Regions from separate parts of the Homo sapiens genome. Here region 1 is linked to region 2. A link means that fine-mapping ties the variant in region 2 to the expression of a gene that starts in the linked region. Tissue or cell type: fibroblasts. Region 2 holds a variant in brackets; the other region holds the start of a gene. All regions are shown on one strand. Distances are between the middles of the regions.

Region 1 (6,166 bases), 230 kb before region 2:
TCTAATCCAAGTTGTCCATTTGCTCATTTTTCTTGGATTAATGAGTTTAGAAAACTAAATGTGATGGCTAATTTCACTTTCTGTTGTGCCTTGTTTTTTGGATTCCCTACATTCCATATGCCGTAAGGAAAGAATTAATTATCTCTGTAAGAAATAATAACATGGATTGAAAGCTTGCTGTGTGTCAGACACTTGACATGTATTACCTCATTTAATCCTGGCAAGTAAATATGCCCAAGGTAACCCAGCTGGTAAATAGTGGACTCAGGCTGGTAGATTCCAGAGCTCATACTTCTGCCATGTACAGCACTATGAAATTGCCCCAGAACTGCCAAACTTCTCCAAAACTGTTTAAGGATACTGTCCTCTTTAAACATGCCTACTCTTTGCTTTTGAACCTTCTGGTTAAAAAAAAAAAAAAAAAGAAATCTTTATATTTTGATCTATAATGTAAACATTAAAGTAAAATAACTCTTTTGTTAAATATAAGTGTTTCTTTAAAAGTCATAACTGTATTGATAGAGTTAAAATGACATTCCATTGGGTTACAAAAAGCAAGGCTATCCTTTTTTTTTTTTTAAAGTACTGTCTTTAATTCACTATTTTCCAATCCAATCAATAAATCTGATCTGACATTTTCAAGTTCGTTAGGTAGTTAGAGATTATGCTGGTTTCTGCATCCAGGCCTTAACACAATAAATGATATGTACATGCTTAGAGTATGTGTTTTCTTTAATATGTAATATACATTTGTTTTTTCTCTCTTCCCCCATTGTAAATCTTGTTCAGGACATGCTCTACATTTCCTCCTTTATCAGGCTGCATGTAAGAAAATACGTTGTCGTCTACTAATCTGAATTGTTGTGTCTTTGATACCTCAAAGAGGTTATTGGGAGTTCTAACTGATAATTCAAACTCATACTTCTTGGGTCAGAATACAGTTCTTGCTTTTCAATGATGTCAAGGCCCACCTCAGGCAAAGTATAGGCTTCTGAACCAATTTCTTGTCAAATTAGTAAAGAAGGGATTTTTCAAACTTCAATTTTGGAAAAGGAGATAACTTTTTCAAACTGTAATCTCTGCCAAGATGCTATGCAAAGGATTTACAAAGGAATCTATAGAACTCAATTCTGCTTCTTAAATACGCAGAGAGGAGTTAAAGATTTCAAATCTTTTAAAAACATAGTGATTCAGCCACGTTCTGTTTATCTGTAAATCTAATAGTGTATGTAGTTGAACTCTTAAAATTCTGGAATGTTTATTTTATTTTATTCATTGTCTTGAGAGGAGCAAAAGGAAGCGAGAGGGCATAGCTTTGAAGAACTGGCAATTTGGCAACTTCTCTCCCCTTGCCACCCCTCCCCCACTATCTTAGCTATTTGATCTGATTAAACAGCTTTGGAATGGTAGCCAGACTTCTGTATGCTAACGAGGCCCCTACCCTATTCGCGATTTAATGCGATTTCATCCCCCCAGAGCTTCCCGGTGCCCAGTGGAAGCCTGACTTCGCAGAAGTCTCCCAATTTTGTCAGGGGCTCGCCAGTGAAGAGTTCACACTGACTTGAAGCAGACACAGACTCATTGGACGCCTCGGGTCACATCGGATTATTCATTAGCAAATTCTTTCCACCTTCTATCTAAGTAGTGAAAGGTGACGCCAGAATCGCGTGTGCCACTCCTCTAAAGGGACCCTGATAACACCCAGTCCAGGCTCTACAACTTCTGCCTAGTCACTTGCTTCCTAGCAGTAGAAAGTTTCCAAAGGTTGCCTTAAGTCCTCCCTACCCCTAAGCCTAAAGATCAGAGCTCCAGGTCCCACCACCTAGCAGGAATCTGAGCATTTTGGAAGTTTCTGGTGTAGAGGGAAGAACCGAAGGGGTGGTAGCGGGGAACCGCGCAGAGTAACCCCCCTGCACTACGTAAGGAAAGCCCTGGCTGCAGGAGGGAGCGAGCCTGACATTGAGACGTTCCAGGGGGAGGGTGAGTTGCTGTCCTGGAGTCGCCAGGAACAGCAGCGACAGTTCCAAGAAGCGAGAGAGGAAGGTGGCCGAGATAAAGAGAACACTTCGGGAATAAGAATATTAAAAAGCGGCAGGACCCAGAGCATTAGCAAACGGCAGAGCACATGTAGTAATTTGTTAACACGAAACGGCAGCCTTCCAACTTTTGCACTGAAACACGGGGATTTACCCTTTGGGGGATTAAAAATGTTGATACGCAAAGCCAAAGGCTAATGAATAGGATTCAGTGGCTTGCTGGCAATATTTAAATATTTCTGTCCGGGAGCGCAAACTCTTCTGCAGTTATTTAGAAAAGTAGGGAGTTAAACCAAACTATAATACTCTCCCGTGCGTCTCCACTTTCCCCAGCCCGAAAAGGAGCTACCAGCGCTGTACTGCCCCTTTAAGACCTGCTGGCTCTCGGGCTCTACAAAAGGGAGTGACCTCTGGGCTTTGACAGCTCTCCTAATAACTACCACGGCGCAGGCCCCGCCCACCTAGCTACCAGCAGCGCCGATTGGCCGGCGGGCCGGTATCCCGCGCTGTGATTGGCCCGTCGCTTCCCCTGAGCGAACCTTTAGAACTCTGAGACAATATTCTGTTACATTGTAGCAAAATGGCGACTGTCATTCACAACCCCCTGAAAGCGTAAGTAAGACTAAAAAATGTACATATTCCGCGTGGTTTCAATATGAAAAAAAAGGCGCCTTCTGCGTGGCGAGCGCTGCCAGAGCATTGCGCTTGCAGGCGCCTCCAGCCGCGGCGGGGCTTCTCTCTTCTTTCAGCTCTTACTTCTTCATCTTCTTTTTTTCCCCCAACGCGCAGAAATGTCAGGAGATGCAATTAACAAGAAGAAAATTGTTACATTTGTGTTCTGCTAAATTGCAGAGAGAGCCAGATATAGGGGTTGCAGGCGGAGAAGCCCGGCGCTCGAGCGCTCTACAGCAGGAGGGTCGCGGGAGCTCGGGGACGGCGCGGTCCCCGGAGTCCCCCGCCTCGCGGGCAGGGAGCGCGGCTTCGGGGGCTGCTGGGCGGGGGGCGAGCGTCGGGCAGTGGCCGCCTCGGTGTACTTGGCCGAGCCCCGCGCCCCCGAGCCCGCGGCCCCCGCCCCGCCGCTGGGTCCGCTGGGTCCAGCGGACGGACCGCGGAGGCTCCGGAGTTTGCAGGGCGCTCTTCGCCTTCCGATCGCTCGCGGGGAGTTTGTGCAAACCTTCCGGAGTTGGAGCACCGCGGGGGAAGCAGCGGGTCCCGGGCGTGCTGGGGCCCAGGTGGTCGCCCCGGGCTTTCCCCGGCAGCCCCCGGATCTCGGAGGCGCTCCGGGCGATCGAGCGTGTGTCTGCTCGTGTATTTGCGAGCGAGCTGGCTTTAGTGGATTAACGACTCGGGTTAACTTGGGGTGGATTTGGAGGCAGGGAAGCCGCAGGTCTTATGAATGGTGTTCTCGCCACCTCTGGGTGAGGCGCTGAGGCAGGCGGAGAGGCGGTTTTGGGGCTCCTGGCCCGAGGGGGCAGCGTCTGCTCCCGGCCGGGCGAGGGGCAGGTGCCTCTGGCCGCCTCGGGGAGACTTTGAGCGCTTGCCCAGATCCTGGACAGAGTGGGGCGGGCCGGGCGAGGACTCGCGGGGGCCAGCCCCGGGTCCAACAGCCAATTTCTGCCTGCCTGCCTTCCTCCTCCTTTTCATCCTTCCTTCCTTCCTTCCTTCCTTCCTTCCTTCCTTCCTTCCTTCCTTCCTTCCTTCCTTCCTTCCTTCCTTCCTTCCTTCCAGTCAGTGGAACTGTTAAGCCGCCAAGTCCGCTCGCGATCGCGGAGCCAGGGGTGGCCTCGGAAAACTAGTGTCGCTCTGAAAGGGGTGCTATTGGGTGATGTCGGCAGAGGGTGGCTCCCTCCGTATCCGAGGTGGGCTGGGGGGTCCTCACCCCTTCGACCGGGACTTCCCCGCCCGGACGAAGCCGCAGGCGAAGTGGCAGAGGGAGGTGCAGGTCGGGTGGGGGGCGGTTCATGCCGAATTCTCCCTGGTGCGTGGCCGCTGTCGACCCTGGTTCTTTTAATTCAGCGCATTCTCGTCTTCACCCCTGGCCACTCCTGGAGTTGAAAACCAGGTTCGCTCCCGGGGACGGTAGGGGGTTCCTAACGCAAAGGAATGCACAGGGAGAATCGGACGTGTTTGCGCCAGCTCGTCGCCCATCAGAAATAGGGAAAGGGGTAGGAAGGCCCCAGGTTTCAAATATATTTATATGAAAGCTGCCGTTAAGAGGACGTTGGAAGCTGAGGCTGATCAGATAGGAGCTCCTGGCTTCAGTTCTGGCTCGGAAGCTCGGATACACTGCGCTTGAACGCCACAGCGTTTCACCCAAGAAAGAAAATGTTTTATGGCAGAATAAATGGGCGTAACTTCGCCGCATCCTCGCTGCCGGTTGCTTTCGCTGCAACACCGCTGATGCTGTTTCTACCGAACCCACAACTGATTTTCAGTTTCCCCATTTCCAGCCGAAATCACATAACCGGGCTGATGCCACCTGGTAAACTCAAGTTAGAGAACCTATTTCACATGTGCACCAGGTTTGTTTCCTCCTGGGAAAGCCGTACCCTAGTTACCCGGGAGCCCGCTTTCGCGCGGGCGGGCGCAGTATCTCTAAGCTTGTGTTCCCCTACTCGCTCCAGGGTTTTTTGGATCACAGTAGGGTGCGTGTTTGGGGAGGGAGTCTGTGTAGGGTGGGGTTAAGGGTGGGGGAAGGGACAGACGCGGGAAAGAAGGTGGCGGAATTCTGGCCGGTTAGTGGAATTAGTTCTGAATTGTACTTTGTATAATTAGAAACAGTTGCAACGTGATGTATTTGTAATTGTGTTGCCACCCACATGCAGACACTAGCATACACACAACGCCCCTGCTTGCTTTTTCTAGGTGGGAGTTGCTTGGTCATTTATAATTAGCTATTCCTTTCTGCTTCCCAGACCCTTTCCCTGTGAGTAAAGGGGTATAAACAATACCACTGACCAGCCCAGCCTCTCACACCCTGGACAGTTTTTGACAACTCCTAACGCAGGAGCACACACGTTGTTATTGGGAGAGGGACACCATCTGCCTTTATTTTTTTAAAAATAACTTGTTTAATAAAACATCTTATATATTTCATTTGTTTTTAAAAGTTGCTGATCAGGAAACAATACACACGTGAATAAATTATGCATGGGATAAATTAGAACAAAGTGCAGAGACACATCCAGCCGAAGGGATGGTGGTGGTGCAGGGAGGAGGGGTAGCGGGGAGAATGGTTTGGAGAGCTATGTTTTTATCCTCATGTGTCCCTCCTGACAATGAAACAGAGCTGAACGACATTAGCATTTTCTCTGTGTGCGTTCTGAGTCTCTCTCTTCCCTCCAAAAAAAAAAAAGCCAACACCACGGACGTCTCCTACAGAAAATGGTCACACAAAGGTTTCCTCAGGATGGGGGGATAAAGTGGTGGTAGTTAATGTGTTGGGAAGAAACAAGCTCAGATTTCCAGCAGCACCTATGCAGGGCTCTGCCTACGCTGAGTATGGGCTATTTTTCACTGTACTAGCTTTTTCCACGTGGGACATTCAATAATTCAATTAGCTGGGGTGATGGGATGGCACAATTTTGAATCTCATTGCTTTGGGGTTTTCCTTAGGGTCCCAAGCTCCTGAAGCCACATCTCCTCTCTTAGCAATTTGGCTTTCTTCCTGCCTGTCTTTGATCTCCCCTCAACTCCCTTTCTTTTTCTTCCTTGTTGTACCCTTCACCCCCTTCCTCTCTGAAGCTGACAGCCCAGCTTCTCTCTCTGTTGTCGCCTTTAACATCTTATTACTGCCCAACAGGGTGTTAGAGGCAGAAATAGGAGCCGCCTGCACTGATCAGATCACAAAGGGGACACGGCAGGTGGCCCCCACAACCAAGCAGTCACATCTGGACAAATAGAATTCAAAAGCACTGGTGGACATGTATGATGTGTAAATGTGTATTACATATTATTTAATTTAGCAGCTACATTGTCTGAGCAAAGATGTATGAGAGTTACCCTCATTTCTTACATATACAAGCGAGATAAGGCCCAGGTAGTGAAGTAAACACATGCAGGTAACATAAATATGGATTTGATAAAGGCCTGCATGTAGATTAGTCACGTTCTGGTTGATTTGTGCATAC
Region 2 (6,166 bases):
ACCTTTGTGCTTTCCTGGTAGCCTGAGACAGAAAGGGCTTCCACTTTTCTCATGCTTGAGATGTGTATGTGATCGCCTGGGCATTTATTCTCAGTTTTGAGGGAATGAAAGTAACAATCCCAACCACTTTTGGGTTGTTCTGTCTAATCTATATGTGGCCTGTTCCTAGGAAATATGGCATAAACCTCCAAGGTTGTCATATTCTGCATGCTCACACGTCAGCCAATAGAGTTTGTTCCAGTAGGTTTCTGCTACGGGGATACAATGTACACTTGCTGTCATTTTCCACCTCTTTACTCTGTACCTTTGACTCAGATATTGGATTCATGGGATTACAACTTGCTTTCATTGATAAAATGTGAGCTTCTATGTTAATAAACATATGTTCAACCAATCTACACTCTCATTTGAATTCTGTCTAGTTGCTCATAGTCCCAGAATTCTCAATGACAATTTGCCTTTACACTTGAGGTGTTTTTTTTTTTAATCCACATATTTAAAGCAAATTATAAAAGGCTACCTAATTTCAGAGTCTAGCTTGGAGTCTAACAGAGAAACTAACCATTTAGAACTAACAAGGCAAACTCCCAGGAGAATGTTTATCTGAGAATGGGTATTGCTTGTCTATTTTATATTTAATAGTATAGCTTGATATTTGATCTTCAGTTTCTCTTCTTGGAGGTAGTTGATATCCTCACTTTTCTTCCTTGGGGTAATAGAAGCATAGTAAGGTTTCTTAGCATGGCCAGACCATCTTGTCTCACCTTGCTTATAGAGTCTTTGAACGGACTCAAGATTTATACCCTTAAAAACTGGAAGGGACTTTTAAGATGATCAAGTTCAAATCTTTCACTTTTCAGTTGAGAAAAGTTGACCCAGAGAGGTTAAGTGAGTTAAGTTGGAGGGACTGGGATGGGCATTGCATTGGAGGGAAATGTTTTAAGGCAAAGGAAGGAAGCTCCGAGAGAGAAGGTGTCGGATGAGGAAGCTGGCTGTCCTTGGTTTCCAACCACTTTAGTGGTGGATGTGATATCTTTATCTCCCTTTTTCTAGATAGCAGTCATCTACATTTTTGTGTGAGGCATTATTCTGGGCGCTTTCCTTGGAATATTTCACTTAATCCTCATGACTACTCCCATGAGATAGGTGTTTATATTAATCCCCAGTTTGCGGAAACTGAGGTTAGTAATAAGGTTAAGAAATGTACACCTAGGAAGGAGCCAGGTTTTGATCCCTGGCAACCTGATTGTAGAGCCTATACTCTATCGTTGCCTGCATTGCCCCTTGCATAGTCTATAATTAAGGAATATATATGCATGCATGTATACATACTTTGCTGTTTCTCAATTCCAACTGAAGAAAAGGGTTTTTGTAATGAATATAGCTTTTAAAAGGTAACGTCATTAAAAGAAATTTCAACAACGGAAGAGTAAGCAATTAGATCCTGTAAAAGAGAGTTCTAATTCAGATTCTCTGCGGAATATTGTAGATAACTTACCTTCTTAATCATCACTTCTAGACAATGTACAAAGAGATCACCTTTTTTGTGACCTTAGGAATTGTAGGAGCTGTGTGAACAGTCAACACACCTTTCTGTTGTTGCTTTTGTTAAATAAGTATCACTACTCAAAATTTAAAATACAAAAGAAATTAGAGTCATCAAGATGAAAACGATCTGGCCAGCTTCCTTTGCCCTCAGCTCAGTAAAGTACCACCCTGAGTTTTCTGAGTCCCAGGCCAAAGAGAGGGGAACCAAAGATATAGAACTTTCTAAATTTGTTACAACATTTTAATCCCCTGGGGAGGGGGGCTGTTGACCTAAAGGTGACAATTGTTATGGTCTAGCTGATTTTTTTCCCTACCTAGAACAATCAAATCCTTTATTTCTGTTACTGAGAGACTATGTAAAGATCAGACACTATAATCACTATGACCCTGGGAATTAGAAATATGCATTTAATTTTTTAGAGGTACTATAAAGACAGTAATCCAATTTGCTACCGGTATTTTAGAGAGAAGAATTTAATAAAAAAAAATGTGATGTTCACATCAATAGCATCCCTTTAAGGGTTCCTGCTTACTCTGCATCTCTCTCTGCATCTAATGGGCTACAGACTGATACTGCTTTATACAGCACTGGAGGGAATGCAAGATCATTACTCAGGGAGAGAACTAAAGGGTGTTTGGGGGTTCTCACCTCATGGTGGAATAAAATTAATTAATTTTATCCCAGTATACCTCCTGTTACATCTGATGAATATGATCTTGAACGTGTACTTAAAATTGGAGCAGACTCATCTGTTAGGAATTTTTCCTCAGGGGATTTTGCTCAGCCTTTGGAGGAGAAGTGACTTGTGTTGTGTATTTTCTGAGTGAGGTGTCTTTGATCTGGTGTGTGGAAGCCTAGAGTGGAGATGACAAGTTCTGGGCTCTGGGCTCAGCTCCCTGTGTGAATTTGTTGACAGGGATCTCTGCCTCAGTTTCTGAGAGAGGAAATGGACATTTCTTTCCCTATTAGAATATGTAGCTTATATTATTTCATGATGATGCTTAACTCTATGAGGTAGGGTAGATGTTATTTATTCCCGTTTTACTGATGAGGAAACTGAGATTTGATCCTGTTTGATGACTTGTCTAAAGTTCCAGGCTCAGTAAATGATGTATGGATCTTCTAATAATCTTTCCTAAGTCTATACTGACTTCCCCAAAGATCATCTTTGGAAGATTTCTTGAGTGAAATCAGTAAAATGCCTGTAGGTCTTTTATTCAAGAATTTATTGGATGAAAAGGAGGTATTTGATTCTGTAAAAGAAAAAACTGAAACAACAGAAACCCCAAATGAAACTATGACACATTAGAATCTTTCTGAGAAGTAGCAATGTCTAAGTCCTCATGAACTTTCTGGGAGAACTAAAGTTGAGCTTCCTAAATGGTCACTGTTTTTGTGGTGCCAGTGGTAGCGGGAGTAATGGTGGCAGGGAGTGAACATTTTGGGCCCTGGTCACAAACCCAATTGCTTCTAACACAAAAACATTGAATTATATAATATTGTGGTGTTTAATAAAAGTGATTTCTGATCACCTATTCAAAATAGCAATATAGGAAAAGCCATTCTGCATGATTGGTTTACAAAATAAATGGGAATGATGGAAGATTCCTGTCAGAACTGAATTATTAGATAAAAAACATTGGCAATTAGGTTTTCAAAGTATCTCACCACTGGAACTCAACCAATAACTATGGCTTTTTAAAAAATTTACTTCTGAAATAATTTACACTTACAAAAAACTTACAAAGATTTTACCAAGAATTCCCATATGTCCTTCACCCAGATTCTTCAAATAACCACAGTACAATGATCACAATCAGGAAATTCACATCGATGCAATGCTATAACCTACAGACCTTATGCAAATTCTGCCAGTTGTCTCACTAGTGTCCTTTTTCTGGTCCAGGATCCAGTCTGGGCTCACAGGTTGCCATGTCCTCTTACAAGTCCTTTAATCTGGAATAGTTAGTACTACAATCTTGTTTTTCACAACCTCGATACTGGTTAGTCATTTCATAGCAAAAGCCATTCAGTTCAGGCTTGGATGCTGTTTTTCTAATGACTAAACTGAAGTTGTGCATTTTGGTTAGAATACCTTAGAAATGATGTTGTATCCTTCTCAGTGCATTACATC[A/C]GGAGGTATGTGATTGATTTACCCCATTACTGGTGACTCAGACATTTGGCCTTTCAGCTGAGATTTCAGGCTATTCTGTTTACAGACCTTGGATGATAACATTTTCATTCAGATATACCTCGGTTCATTTGGCAACTAGGGACTGAGTAATAACAGTATGCGTGTGACTGCTCAGCACTGTCAAGGATAGGATAAAATTAAACATGGGGCAATGAATTTATTGGCCATTGGATTTATTTTGTGACCTAGTGGATCAGACTAGAAATTCACAAATAGTTAAAATCATGTAAGAGCTGTCATGGGGTAGTATGTGATTATTTTTGCCATGGATCTCAGTAGACAAGAAGATTTTCTTGGAGGAAGCCATCTAGATCAACAAAGAGCTCCAGATGGACCGTTGCTGTTGAATCTGTAGGCAAGAATGTCTATTGTCAGAGACAATGGAGATAATATTCGAACAAAAAGCAAAGCTGGGAATCACAACCTAACCCATGTAAAATGGCAAAAATCACCATTTGAAAACCCGCCTAAGTACCATTCCATAGCATTTTGTTCCTGCCGCTCCTGTGCTTATCACAACACATCATGTTTGCTTGTAGTCCTTCTCAAACAGATGGCGTGTTCCTTGAGGGCAAAGGTGATATCACTCATATCCTCCAGACAGTGCCTGACACCAGTGTGCCATAATTATTTGTTGAAATAAACTGAGAACTGAGCAGTTTCTGAGATAATTAGTGGAAGTCTTACCAAATCTCACTCTATGCATAGAGGATGCTTAATAAATATTGTTGACAGAAAGAATGGAGAAGTCTCTGGACACAGCATCCAGTGGTTAAGTCAGAGGGGGCAGGTGGGAGGTGGTGAGGTGGTGGTGAGGGGTAAAGGAGAGAAAAGGGGGATGTCAGGACAGGGGTGGGGAGGGGTTGACCATGTGTGTGGAGGGGTAGAAAACTATGCCTTCTTGCAGGGGATTGAGAGCAGGAGACTAAGAACACAGCTGCACATTGTTTCATTTTTGTGGCCTGCAGTTGACCTGACCAGAGGAAACAAAAGAGAAAATGGAAGTTAGGAGTGCCAAGTTGGGACTCACGCATGATTTTCTAGGTGGCTTTAGTGGGGCAAAGGAAAAATACATGTGTGTGTGTGTTGGGAGGTCGGGGTGGAAATTTGAAGAAACTGAAAGGTGTGGGGTAAGCTTATGAGACAGACTCACTACAGAGTGGCAGGTAACATCTGACCAGAGGGGTCAGGGCACTGGGAGAGGGACAGAAAGACTCCTGGCAGGGAGTGAAATGATGACAGATGCCCATGGAGAGAACAATCGGCAGGCGTTCTGTGGGAGGTCCCAGGAAAGGTCACCTGGGTTTGATCAGTCAAGGGAAGGAGCTAGAGGCAGGTGGTGACAGCAAAGAGCATGAGGGAAGTGGGGGTAGGGTGCACCAGCAAAGCGGATCAGAAAGGGAGACAGTGGGGTGGGATGGGGTAGAGGCAAGGAACAGGAGCAGGTGTGGAGGGAGGACTTGGTCAAGGAGGAAAGTTGGATGAATGGAGTCTCAGCTTTGGAAGAGCATCTAATCCAGGCCTGTGCACCTGGCCATTGAGTGATGCTTGGGTACCAGGAGAGGTGGGGCAGGGGAGGGGCCTTTCAACTTGGAAGAGGCTGAGCTGCTCATTTGCTTTTGAGCTTTTTTCCTTGCTGGCTTGGCCATTTTCCATTTAGGCCCATTCTCCCTCTTCTCCCTCCCTTATCGCTCAGCTTAATGTGATCTAGGCACTGTTGGGACACCCATCTCTGCTTTCAGAAACTGCTTCCGGGGTGAAATGTGGCAGTACTTGGTTTCATTGCTCACTCCTTTGTGTCAACTACTCCGTTCCAAAGACCAAAATGGCAGATTTCATTTCAGCTAGAAGCAAAAGCTATGCGTGGCTATCCAGGCAAAAGGGCCCACCTGTGTGAACCACCACCAGGTTCCAAGGCTGACAAAGGGATCACTGTGCTAGTAGAGGACTGGAACTGGTCTCTTGGTTGGGGACTGTCTCCGAGTAACTCTGACACACTTGAATCACTTGGGGCAGGGTTGGGGCTGAGTGTGAGTGCTTGTGAAGGAAGCAGTGTCCTTTTGGGCTTAGGCCAAATGAGGCATCTGATGGGGTTTTCTGTGGCTGAATTGGTTCTATACCATAGAACTACTCATTTCTACTTGGATGGCAGGGAGAGAGATGACATCATAAAGGTCCTTTCTGGGGTGTTTTAACTGTGAAAAGATTCAGTTTGTTTGGTTTCTAAGTGGAGGGGAATTTTTTTTTTTTTTTTTTGCTAACACCCAGTTCTGCCTGCTACACCACCTGGGAATTGACCATCCAGCTGTGTTCTCTCTGCCTCTGGCCCAGTAGCAACTGACCTGCCCTATTCCTGGCTGATCTCATGCTGCTGAAGTTCAAGGCGCTGGACACACTACCCTGATTTTTGTTGCACCTGGCCT

Alleles and levels. Positions count from the first base shown, and alleles are read on the strand shown. Sizes are in standard deviations (SD) of each study's normalised expression.
In carriers of allele C in region 2, the expression in fibroblasts of the gene that starts at base 2,604 in region 1 tends to be higher than with A alone (large effect, 0.86 SD a copy in GTEx).

What was found. PIP is the estimated chance that this variant, and not a neighbour inherited with it, causes the effect.
Region 1: it holds the start of DPF3, and the variant in region 2 is fine-mapped to the expression of DPF3 in fibroblasts (GTEx, PIP above 0.99).

The regions. Positions count from the first base shown.
Region 1 is chr14:72,890,539-72,896,704 of GRCh38, reverse strand. DPF3 (double PHD fingers 3) reads left to right here and starts at 2,604. Exons shown (of 11, transcript NM_001280542.3): 1 at 2,604-2,648. The coding sequence starts at 2,617. RefSeq lists an enhancer at 2,350-2,644.
Region 2 is chr14:72,663,000-72,669,165 of GRCh38, reverse strand. All of the region lies in intron 8 of DPF3 (double PHD fingers 3), which reads left to right. Among named protein-coding and RNA genes, the nearest start is that of MIR7843, 150 kb to the right of the region's middle. The variant A/C (reference allele first, on the strand shown) is at 3,684.